2 separate regions of the Homo sapiens genome follow, and region 2 is linked to region 1. The links come from fine-mapping of genetic effects on gene expression. A gene starts in region 1. The other region holds a variant in brackets. All regions are shown on one strand. Distances are between the middles of the regions.

The links. PIP is the estimated chance that this variant, and not a neighbour inherited with it, causes the effect. A credible set is the group of variants that fine-mapping cannot tell apart.
Region 2: its variant is the best candidate, but not a certain one, in a credible set for the expression of SMC5 in whole blood (INTERVAL, PIP 0.83).

What each region holds. Positions count from the first base shown.
Region 1 is chr9:70,256,514-70,261,896 of GRCh38, forward strand. It overlaps SMC5 (structural maintenance of chromosomes 5), which reads left to right and starts at 2,465. Exons shown (of 25, transcript NM_015110.4): 1 at 2,465-2,750. The coding sequence starts at 2,566. It overlaps SMC5-DT (SMC5 divergent transcript), which reads right to left and starts at 2,361. Exons shown (of 4, transcript NR_039990.1): 1 at 1,883-2,361; 2 at 1,402-1,422. RefSeq lists enhancers at 2,032-2,221, 2,552-2,751 and a silencer at 2,292-2,511.
Region 2 is chr9:70,221,760-70,227,142 of GRCh38, forward strand. MAMDC2 (MAM domain containing 2) reads left to right here. Exons shown (of 14, transcript NM_153267.5): 13 at 3,991-4,075; 14 at 4,209-5,213. The coding sequence ends at 4,273. All of the region lies in intron 3 of SMC5-DT (SMC5 divergent transcript), which reads right to left. Among named protein-coding and RNA genes, the nearest start is that of SMC5-DT, 34 kb to the right of the region's middle. The variant A/T (reference allele first, on the strand shown) is at 3,111.

The sequences.
Region 1 (5,383 bases):
GACTCTCCCACTCCTGTGCTTGTTTATCTGTGCTTAAAGCTGTCTATCTGTCCAGGTGCAACCTGAGGTTTTCCCAAGGTTGTTTTATTTTTTGCCTGTTGCTGTGACTTTTCAGGTAGGCTGCTGCTGCAGTCTGAATTTTTTCAATGATTTTTCCTTCCCGTCTCTCTCATTTTCATTTGCATTTAAGAAAATTTCCAGTAACTACGACAAGTTCACATGCTTTTTACTTACTCTATTTTCTCTGGAGCGGAGTCCTTGTGTGAGAGGAAGCAGCAGAGACCTGGGAAAGGAGCTTTGGTCTAGGAGTCAGGAATCAGGGATCTACTGCAATAGCTTTCTAAGTGGCCTTCCACTTCCACACTTGGTGCCCTCTAATCCATTTTCCACACAGCAACCAGAATTATTATTTAAAAACTTTAAGGCCAGGCACAGTGGCTCATGCCTGTAGTGCCAGCACTTCGGGACACCGAGGTGGGCGGATCACTTGAGGTCAGGAGTTACAGACCAGCCTGGCCAAAATGGTGAAACCTCGTCTCTACTAAAAATACAAAAATTAGCCAGGTGTGGTGGCATGCACCTGTAATCCCAGCTACTCGGGAGGCTGAGGCAGAAGAACCGCTTGAACGAGGGAGGCAGAGTTTGCAGTGAACTGAGGTGGCACTACTGCACTCCAGCCTGGGCGACTGGGTGAGACTCTGTCTCAAAAAAATCAAATAAAAAAAATCAAATAAAAAAATTAAAAGCTTTAGTCAGAACATGGCCCTCTCCTGCTTAAAACTTTGCAATGGCTTCCCATTGCTTTAAAAATAAAATTCAGGCTTTTCCACGATGGACAAGGTTCTGCTCTGCAACCTTGTTCACTGCTCTGCAGCAACACTGGCCTTCCCACCTCAGAGCTTTTGTCCTTACTGGTATGTTCCAGCAAAATTCTTTTGCCTGGGGTGCTCTTTTCTCAGATCGTCACAGTTTCTTCTCGTCCTTCAGAGTTTATCTTAAACACCACCACCTCTCTAAGAGGCCTTCCGTACCTCCCACCCATCAGGTTCATTTTGTTTTCTTCCTAACACCTGTCACAGTCTGACATTATGCTAATCATTTGTTGTGTCAGCCTTAAGTAGTGAAATTCAGAAAATATCATTAAGTATAGAGTTTATTCTAACGCAAAGCTTGAGGACAGCCACCTGGAAACACCAACTCCAAACAAATAGGGTCAATGTTCCAAAGTGAAGTTAAGGTTTCATTTACACAGGCAGAAACAGAGAAGGTTCAGCAGGAGTACATTTTCAATACAAGAGCAGTGCATAAATTACAGCGATTAGATTAGTTATAGATAGCTACATTCCAAGGAAGATAACTATATTAATTTATGAAGGGGGTAGTGATCTGAGGGGGTCTTACCTCTGTCTCTGTTTGGTCTTCCTGATTATAGGAAAAAACAAGGCAGACATTGCAGCTGTATGCCATGGGACTCAGGCCCCATCGCCACATTCTTCGCAAGGCTCAGAATAATTTAAAGTTCCAACAGCTTTAAGTTTGAATTATTTAATTTCACAGTTGATTCACTTGTTCTTTTCCTGTCTCCCACAATAGAAAATAAGCTCCCAGGGATGCAACCTTGGCAGGCTCCTAAACTGCCACGGCTCCAGTTTCTTGTAGATTAGATATTCACTGTTGGTTAAATGAAAGAAGTTCTAGACAGGCCTCGGTGTGCTGCCTCCTCTTTAACGAGAGGGCTTACTAGATGAATGTGAGCAGACGGAAGCAGAACACCCTCTTAATGAAGGCAGCGCATTCCAGCTCAGGGATTTCTAGAAACCTCGGGGGCGGAAGTTTAACCAGAGAATTAGGAGGCAAGGGGAAGAGTAGCAATGAGGTTAACCTGTGCAGTGTAGTCATTTCACGAGTTTGAGAACGCCTAGCACGATGCCTTAACGGAGCGTCGGGCACAGAGTCATTTGGGAGGATTTCTTTTTCGGATTTTTGAGACAGGAACCTGATTTGAAGCAACAGGGAAGAACACCAAGAGGACGAAGAGCCAACGACGGGCGTGCCCGGGAGCTCTCACCTGGAAGGGGTGGGAGCAAGCAGGGCCTGACGTCCTCCCGCCTTGGCGGCCGTGGACGCCCCAGGTGCCACCCACAGCAGCCTCCCACCACACATGACTGAGGCTCGGGAAGCAATAAAGTGGCTTTCAAAATACTAAACGCAATTGAGATTTTTTCCTGAGTTAAAACAAAAAAAAAAAGGAACTGAATGCCGAAATATACGGAGAAGAAACTCCAGTTGCCACGTCCCCGAACGTCTCCACCCAGTCCTGCCTGCTGTTTCGCCCTCAGTCTGGGCCTCGCACAGCGCGGCGGAGCGCGGGAGGGGCGGGGCGGGCCTGCTGACGTCGCCGGACCTGAACTGCGCAGGCGCGGCGCGAGATCGCGGGAGCGAGCGCGCGGTAACAGTTCGCGGCAGTTCGCGCGGGAGCGGGGCGCCTGGGTGGATGGGCGCTTGGGCGCCTGGGCTGCCGGACGGTGGGAACGGAAGTCGCTGTGGGACGCTGAGGAAGCCAGGATGGCGACTCCGAGCAAGAAGACGTCAACTCCAAGCCCCCAGCCTTCCAAGAGAGCTCTCCCGAGAGACCCTTCGTCGGAGGTCCCGAGCAAGAGGAAGAATTCGGCCCCGCAGCTGCCGCTGTTGCAGTCGTCCGGGCCTTTCGTGGAAGGCTCTATCGTCCGCATCTCGATGGAGAACTTCCTGTAAGTTGCCCGGAGGCCGCGCCGCGGGTGTGGAGGTGTGCTGGCCAGCAGGCCCCGGGGCTCCGGCAGCGCGCGGGCGTGGGCGTGTGGGTGTGTACCTGGCTTGTGGGTCTGGCCTTGAATTCGTGCCGGGGTTCCCTTGAGGATTTTCCTACGTAGGCTGTGGAGATTGACGTGTATGATGTAGGAGATGTGTGCCTTGGGTGATGTGGTTTTTAAATTTAGTCAGCCAAGGTTTTCCAAAGGTGTCATGTAGCAGGTAGTGGTTGTAGGAGGGAGTAGGTCTCTGCCCGCTGGGAGTCGCGATCCATAGCGGCCCTGGTCTGGAATTCACAGAAGTATTGTCCCCGGGAACTTAAGAGGAGGCAACAGTTAATTCGGCGTGATAGTGATGCTGTGGCGGATTCTTAGGGTAGGCATTTGCCAGAGAGGAGTAGATAAGACGGTAAAGGTTGTTCGGGAATGGAGGTTACAGGTACAAAAAAATTAAACACTTACTGGCAATTGTTGGACCTCCCTACAAACCCTTGACCCCACTAAACCCAGTTTTCTTCCCTGGTTCCTCCCTCTCCCCTTCAGACAACTAGTTACCGCTTTAGAATTTAGTAAGTTTTAAATATATCATGTATTTGCCTAGCACCTTCCAGTTCATTTGTTCCAGGTCTTTTTTTTTTTTTTTTTCCTCTTTTTTTTTGAGACGGAGTTGCGCTCCTGTAGCCCACGCTGGATGGAGTGCTGTGCCGCGATCTCGGCCCACTGCAACTTCCGCCTCTCGGTTTCAAGCGATTCTTCTGGGTCAGCCTCCCGAGTAGCTGGGACTACAGGCGCGCGCCACCACGCCCGGCTAGTTTTTGTTTTTGAGACGGAGTGTCATACTGTCGTCCGGGCTGGAAGGTAGTGGCGCAATCTCGGCTCACTGCAACCTCCGCCTCCCAGTTTCAATCAATTCTCCTGCCTCAGCCTCCCGCGTAGCTGGGATTACAGCCAGCCGCCACCACGCCCAGCTATTTTTTTTTGTATTTTAGTAGACTCGCGGTTTCACCGTGTTGACCAGGCTGATCTGGAACTTTTGACCTCAGGTGATCTGCCCGCCTCGGCCTCCCGTAGTGCTGGGATTACAGGCGTGAGCCACCATGTCCGGCCGGAAGTCTTTTTAAAGCTTGCACATAGTGGCATAAGGATAACAGAATTGTAATAACAATACTACCTTTTTTTTTCAAGCACCTATTGTGTGCCAGGTACATAGTGCACTCATTCTTTCTTCATAACAACTCTATCTTGATAATTTCCATTGCTGAAAGAAGCTCAGTAGGTTATTTTGCCCAGTTTTACGCAGCTGTTACATAGTTGCATTGCTATTTGAATCCAGATCAGGAAAGATAAATGTAATCAAATGAGTTAGATACCATAACAACATATATCAGGATCCTTCACAAAGGATGAAGTGGTTAGTTTTGTCTACGAGTATGAGAAAGGGCTTTGTAAAGAAGATATGAAAGTCTTTGGTCTTGCTCTGTTGCCCACGCTGGAGCTCAGTGGCATGATCAGGGCTCCGTGAAGCCTGGACCTCCCCTTCTCAAGTGATCCTCCTACCTCAGCCTTTCAAGTAGCTCGGACTATAGGCGCGTACCATACCTGGCTAATGTTTTAAAATTTTTTTGTAGAGATGGGGTTTCACCATGTTGCCCAGGCTAGTTTCGAACTTCTGGGCTCAAGAAACTCACCTCGGCCTCCCAAAGTGCTGGGATTACAGACATGAGCCACTGCACCCGCCTAAGAAGATAGGAAAGTCTTGCAAGAAGTGAAGAGCATTGAAGACAGAAGGAACTGTCTGAAATAGTTTGGTATATTTAGAAAGCGTCAAGTATTTTAGTAAGGCAAGAATATAGGATGTGAATGAGTATTTGGACAAAGGGTAAGCAACCATTCAGGGGCCTGTATGTTTACTATGCTAAGAAGTTCCGACATCATCCTGTAGGCAGCCACGGTGTGTTTTCAACAGGGAATGACGTGTGTTCTGTGTTATTCTGGAAGCACTGTAGAGGATGATTTAGAAAGGGTGCAAGATTGGAAGCAAAAAGACAATACGAAGGCAAGAGATGATCAGAGTGTGAAGGAATGAGATTTGACAGGATCCAGCTACAGAATAGTTGTGAGGCATGGGGGAAAGGGAGGAATGCAGCATTTTTCCCAAGTGTAAGAGCCTTAGCTAATTGATCAGGTGCTATTCAGAAGAGGGAGCAGTTTGAGGAGAATAATAAATGCCTCTTAGATCCTGTGACTTAAAGTTTCCTTTGTGGCATCTAAGAGAGATGTTCTATAGGCAGAATGTAGGAGTCTGGAGCTTAGAGGAAAATATGAACAGATGAGAGTTTTGGGAGTCATGCATACAGGTGATTGATGAAGTTGCAGAACTGGTTATGATTGCCCAATAGGAATTATGAATTGAAGAACTAGAAGACCATGTACAGAGTCTTGGGAGAATGCCTACATTAAGGGTGAACTGAAGAAGGACTCAAAGTCAGAAGGAACTATTCAGGGAGGTAAGATGAAAACAGTGGGAGACAATTATCAAAGAAGCCAAGGAAAAAGAATGTTTCAAAAATATCACCTGCTACATTGAAGTCAGATAG
Region 2 (5,383 bases), 35 kb before region 1:
GTATAAAATTGTGATTTATCAATTAAAAATAATATTAAGAAGAGGAAGGAAAATAAGAGGAAGAAGAAGTCAAGTTGATCAAGTGGTGAGGTCAAAGAAGTATTGTGATAATCATGAAAATCCTTAGAAGGTGTGGTAAAGAGTTTGAAATTTGTTCCAAAAGCAGTAAGAAGCCATCATACAGCTTTAAGGTAATATTATCTGATTTTGAAATGATCACTCCAGCTACTGCGTGTAAAGTATACTGCAATGGGACAAGGAGACTTTGGGGGCTGCTGCAGTAGCCCTGGCAAGAGGAGTGATGGCTTAGGCTATGCAGCAGAGGTGAGGAGATGTCATCAGAAGCCCACGAGACTTCTTATGTATAGAATGTGGAGTCTGAGGGAAAGGGAGACACCAAGATGACTCCAAAGCTTTTGGCATGAGCAATTGCTAAAATGAATTGAGATATCATTTATTGAGATGAGGAAGAGTTGAGACAGAGCAGACCTGGAGTGAGGGCAGTGTGTGCAGGAAGAAAATTAATAGACTTCTGGGGGGACATGTTAAGTTTTCTATGTCTATTAGAAATCCAAATGGTTGTAAGTAAATAATAGGATATGAGATGAGTTCAGGGAAGAGAACACAGTTAGGGAAGTAAATGTGTACAGCTTGAATGGGGGTGGGCAGGTAGAGATGGTATTTAGAGTGTGATAGTACTGCTGCCATTTGAGATTGATCCTATGGGGAAAATATGTGGGTGGCCTCCTAAAGGCATTCCACTCATTAGATCATCCCTGTGGGAAAAAGAAATGCATCAAACGGCAAATGTTTAATCATGCTCCTTCCTAAGGGATTTATTAGTGCTAAGCAGAAACTGACTCACTATTGATCAAAAGCACAAAATCATTCTATTTCCTTTGGATTCCCTGATTACCCCTCCTCCCCAGCTTTCATGACTTTTCCTCCTTGGTTTCTTAGATTTTTATGCCATTGAAGTAAAGTGTTATACAAATTCCCAGCTCACTGAAATATTTACATCAGTCATATTATTAATTATACTGCCTAACAGTTACTAGGAATTTCTATGCACTGCATACTCAGCTAAGACTCAGGTTGGCAGGGTGCGGTGGCTTACACCTATAATCCCAGCACTTTGGGAGGCTGAAGTAGGGGGATTTCTTGAGCCCAGGAGTTTGAGATCAGCCTGGACAGCATGGCAAAACCCTGTCTCCTCTAAAAGTACAAAAATTAGCCAGGTTTGGTGGTGCATGCCTGTAGCCCCAGCTACTAAGGCGCCTAAGGCAAGAGGATCACTTGAGCCCAGGAGGCAGAGGTTGCAGTGAGCTGATATCGCATCACTGCACTCCAGCTTGAGAGCAAGACTCTGTCTCAAAAAAAAAAAAAAAAAAAAAAAAAAAGATTCAGGTCTCCAAATTTTCTTGTTTATGATGCCCATAGTAATTTTTTCTTGGTGCCGCAATACCAGAAGAAACACCTAACAGTTTCATATATTAAGTATTTGGATTCAAACAACTTAAGTATTTATGTTCTAACAACTTAGTAGCCATCTGAAAAAATACTTAAAATAAAAATTAAGATTTTATCTAATTATTAACCAAAATTATGTACAAATAGAATGTATATACCTGTCGGGCACAAACTTCCCAAACCTTGGAATTAGATTGGATACACTACCCTTATTTTATGTTCCACATTGATTTCTACACAATGCTTGCTTTTAATTGTAGCAGCTACCAAAAAACTCAGCTCTATGAAGATATGTTATCAAAAGCAATACAGGACAATCCCATGTTAAAACTTTGAATGACATTGAGCTAGCAGTTCACATGGTGTCTGCTAAGTATTGAATATTGCCATGTTTCCCTTAAAATTTCAAACTATCCACAGCACCCCATGAATGTACTTGGGCACCCTGGGGCACCTCAGCACACACTTTGGGAACCAAGGACATATATGATCTTATTTAATCCTACATTTGTTATGTCTATTATCTAAATAAACAAGTATTTGCTCAGTAGCTATTTGATTTGGATAGATTTGGTTAGTCTTAAAGTGCAAAGATAAGTCAGCTTAATCCTATTGTCAATGTAGAAAAAGAAGAGGTATTACTACATATTTATAATACAAGGGGGAAATCATAGTACTATAAAATGGTGATCACTACTGTATTAAGAAATTTCAGAGGAGAAAGTTGTATAAAATCAAGTGTCTGGCCAAATCATAGACTATTCAGAATATAATTCCTTCAGGTAATTTTATTACTCTTTTCATTACAGACTTGAAGGCCAAAAAAACAGATTTTATTGTTGTTCAGAGAACCAAAATGCTTATTATGTGCACTCAGGTGTCCTTTTATCTAGGTGTGTTAGGACATTTTTTCCCTCTTCTTGCCACTTATTTGGATTCTTATTTAGCACTGTGTATTAATCAGTGTTCTCCAGAGAAACCGAACCAGTAAGAGGAGAAAGAGAGAGACAGACACAGAAGGTGAGAGAGATATGAAAGGGGATGTATTATAGAAATTGGCTCATATAATTATGAAGGCTGAGATGCTATATTCAAGCATCTCATTGTATATAGCAAAGGTTTCCATTGCTATATACAAGCTGGAGAACCAGGAAAGCTGGTACCATAGCTCAGTCCAAATCCCAAGGCCTGAGAACTAGAGAAGCCGATGGTATAACTATTAGTCTGCAGCCAAAGGCCTGAGAACCTAGGGTGCCACTGGTACAATTCCAGAAGTCTGAAGACTGAAGAACCTAGAGTTCTGATGTCCAAGGACAGAAGCAGACGGGTGTCCCAGTTACAGAAGAGAGAGCAAACTTGCTTCTCCTCTGCCTTTTTGTTCTATCTGCATCCTCAACCAATTTGATGGTCCCCACTCACATTGGGTGAGGACAGATCTTCCTTTCTCAGTCCACCAATTCAAACGCCAATCTCTTTCAGAAACACCCTCACATACATACTGAGAAATAATGCTTTACCAGCAATGTGGGTATCCCTTAACCCAGTCAAGTTGACACCTGAAATCCACCATCACGAGTTGGATCCTTAGCATTTTTATTAAGAGTATTTTGCCACCAGTCTGTCACTGAAGCATCTTTGAA[A/T]CATTAATTTCAAGATAACTTTATAAACATATTATTTAATTTATATTCTTTAATTTTAGGGAGGGTTTAAATAAAATTTAAGGTCTTTCTTTTTTATTTAAATTATAAACTACTCCAATGAAGACTCACTTGCTTATAAAATGAATAGAGCAAATGTGTCTTCTGAACAACTTTCATTACCCATGGGCCTCCCTGGACTATTCAGTAATTTGTTAACCATTGTTGGGACAGCCTTAGAGCTGGTTAAGTAATCTATTTTTCCTACAACCACAATATCTGATCAGTTATTTTCTTCTCAGAATCTGAAGTTATAAAACTGATTCTCTCTTCTGCCTGAGCTGTGTCTTTGATGTTATGGTATTTAACATAAGTGAACCATTATCTTTGGTAAACTTCATCATTATGCTTTTCTGTTCACACATGGGTATCATCGGTCATATTAAATTTTTCCACCTCGTAGCAGTATCAAAGGTAGATTTATGGAGTGCTAAAGGAAATTTAAATTTCTGAGCCCCTCACTTTCACAGACCCTGTGTGGGTGCTGGGGGATGCTGGGAGAAGAGTGTTCCAATTGGGAAGAGGAAACCAGGTTACCACCAAGAAGCATTTCTAGGCAAGCATTTCTGGGAAATTGCCTAAAGAGATCTCAGAAGACAGGGACCTGAATCTTCAAGGCTTCAGTAATTTATTGTGTTTCTTTAAATTCCAAATAAATATTCTCTTTAATACCTAGATTTCAATTTGTAATTTGGTATCCTTTTCCTTAAAGGGATCCTCAAGAGCAATCTACGTTTTCATATTTACAAAGCCTGGATCTGCCCTGACCAGCACTGTAATCAGGATGATTCTATTTCTAAATTCAAACATATTATTCTTTCAGATAATTTTTGAAGCCATTCGAGGAGTATCAATAAGAAGTGATATTGCCATTGATGATGTTAAATTTCAGGCAGGACCCTGTGGAGGTAATATTTTTTCCCAATCATATAAGCTTGACTGAAAATGGACTTTGCGATACTGTCTCAAACTACAAGAATACAAATTAAATATTTTTCTATAATAAAAATACTGTTATTGTATATTTGTCTTTCCTGACAGAAATGGAAGATACAACTCAACAATCATCAGGATATTCTGAGGACTTAAATGAAATTGAGTATTAAGAAATGATCTGCATTGGATTTACTAGACGAAAACCATACCTCTCTTCAATCAAAATGAAAACAAAGCAAATGAATACTGGACAGTCTTAACAATTTTATAAGTTATAAAATGACTTTAGAGCACCCTCCTTCATTACTTTTGCAAAAACATACTGACTCAGGGCTCTTTTTTTCTTTTTGCATATGACAACTGTTACTAGAAATACAGGCTACTGGTTTTGCATAGATCATTCATCTTAATTTTGGTACCAGTTAAAAATACAAATGTACTATATTGTAGTCATTTTAAAGTACACAAAGGGCACAATCAAAATGAGATGCACTCATTTAAATCTGCATTCAGTGAATGTATTGGGAGAAAAATAGGTCTTGCAGGTTTCCTTTTGAATTTTAAGTATCATAAATATTTTTAAAGTAAATAATACGGGGTGTCAGTAATATCTGCAGAATGAATGCAGTCTTTCATGCTAATGAGTTAGTCTGGAAAAATAAAGTCTTATTTTCTATGTTTTATTCATAGAAATGGAGTATTAATTTTTAATATTTTCACCATATGTGATAACAAAGGATCTTTCATGAATGTCCAAGGGTAAGTCAGTATTAATTAATGCTGTATTACAAGGCAATGCTACCTTCTTTATTCCCCCTTTGAACTACCTTTGAAGTCACTATGAGCACATGGATAGAAATTTAACTTTTTTTTGTAAAGCAAGCTTAAAATGTTTATGTATACATACCCAGCAACTTTTATAAATGTGTTAAACAATTTTACTGATTTTTATAATAAATATTTTGGTAAGATTTTGAATAATATGAATTCAGGCAGATATACTAAACTGCTTTTATTTACTTGTTTAGAAAATTGTATATATATGTTTGTGTATCCTAACAGCTGCTATGAAATTATAAAATTACCTAATAAAAATAATTTGAAAATCTTTTCACTAGCAATTAACTCATTTCTACATTATTTGTCTTTATCAGAGTATCTTCACTACAACACTGCAGATTCTAATTTGAATCTCTACTCTGCCACAACAAAATGCTTAAGCCTTTTTATTAGTGACATAAGCACTCTATACATTAATATAATAATTATTACTTTTTTCT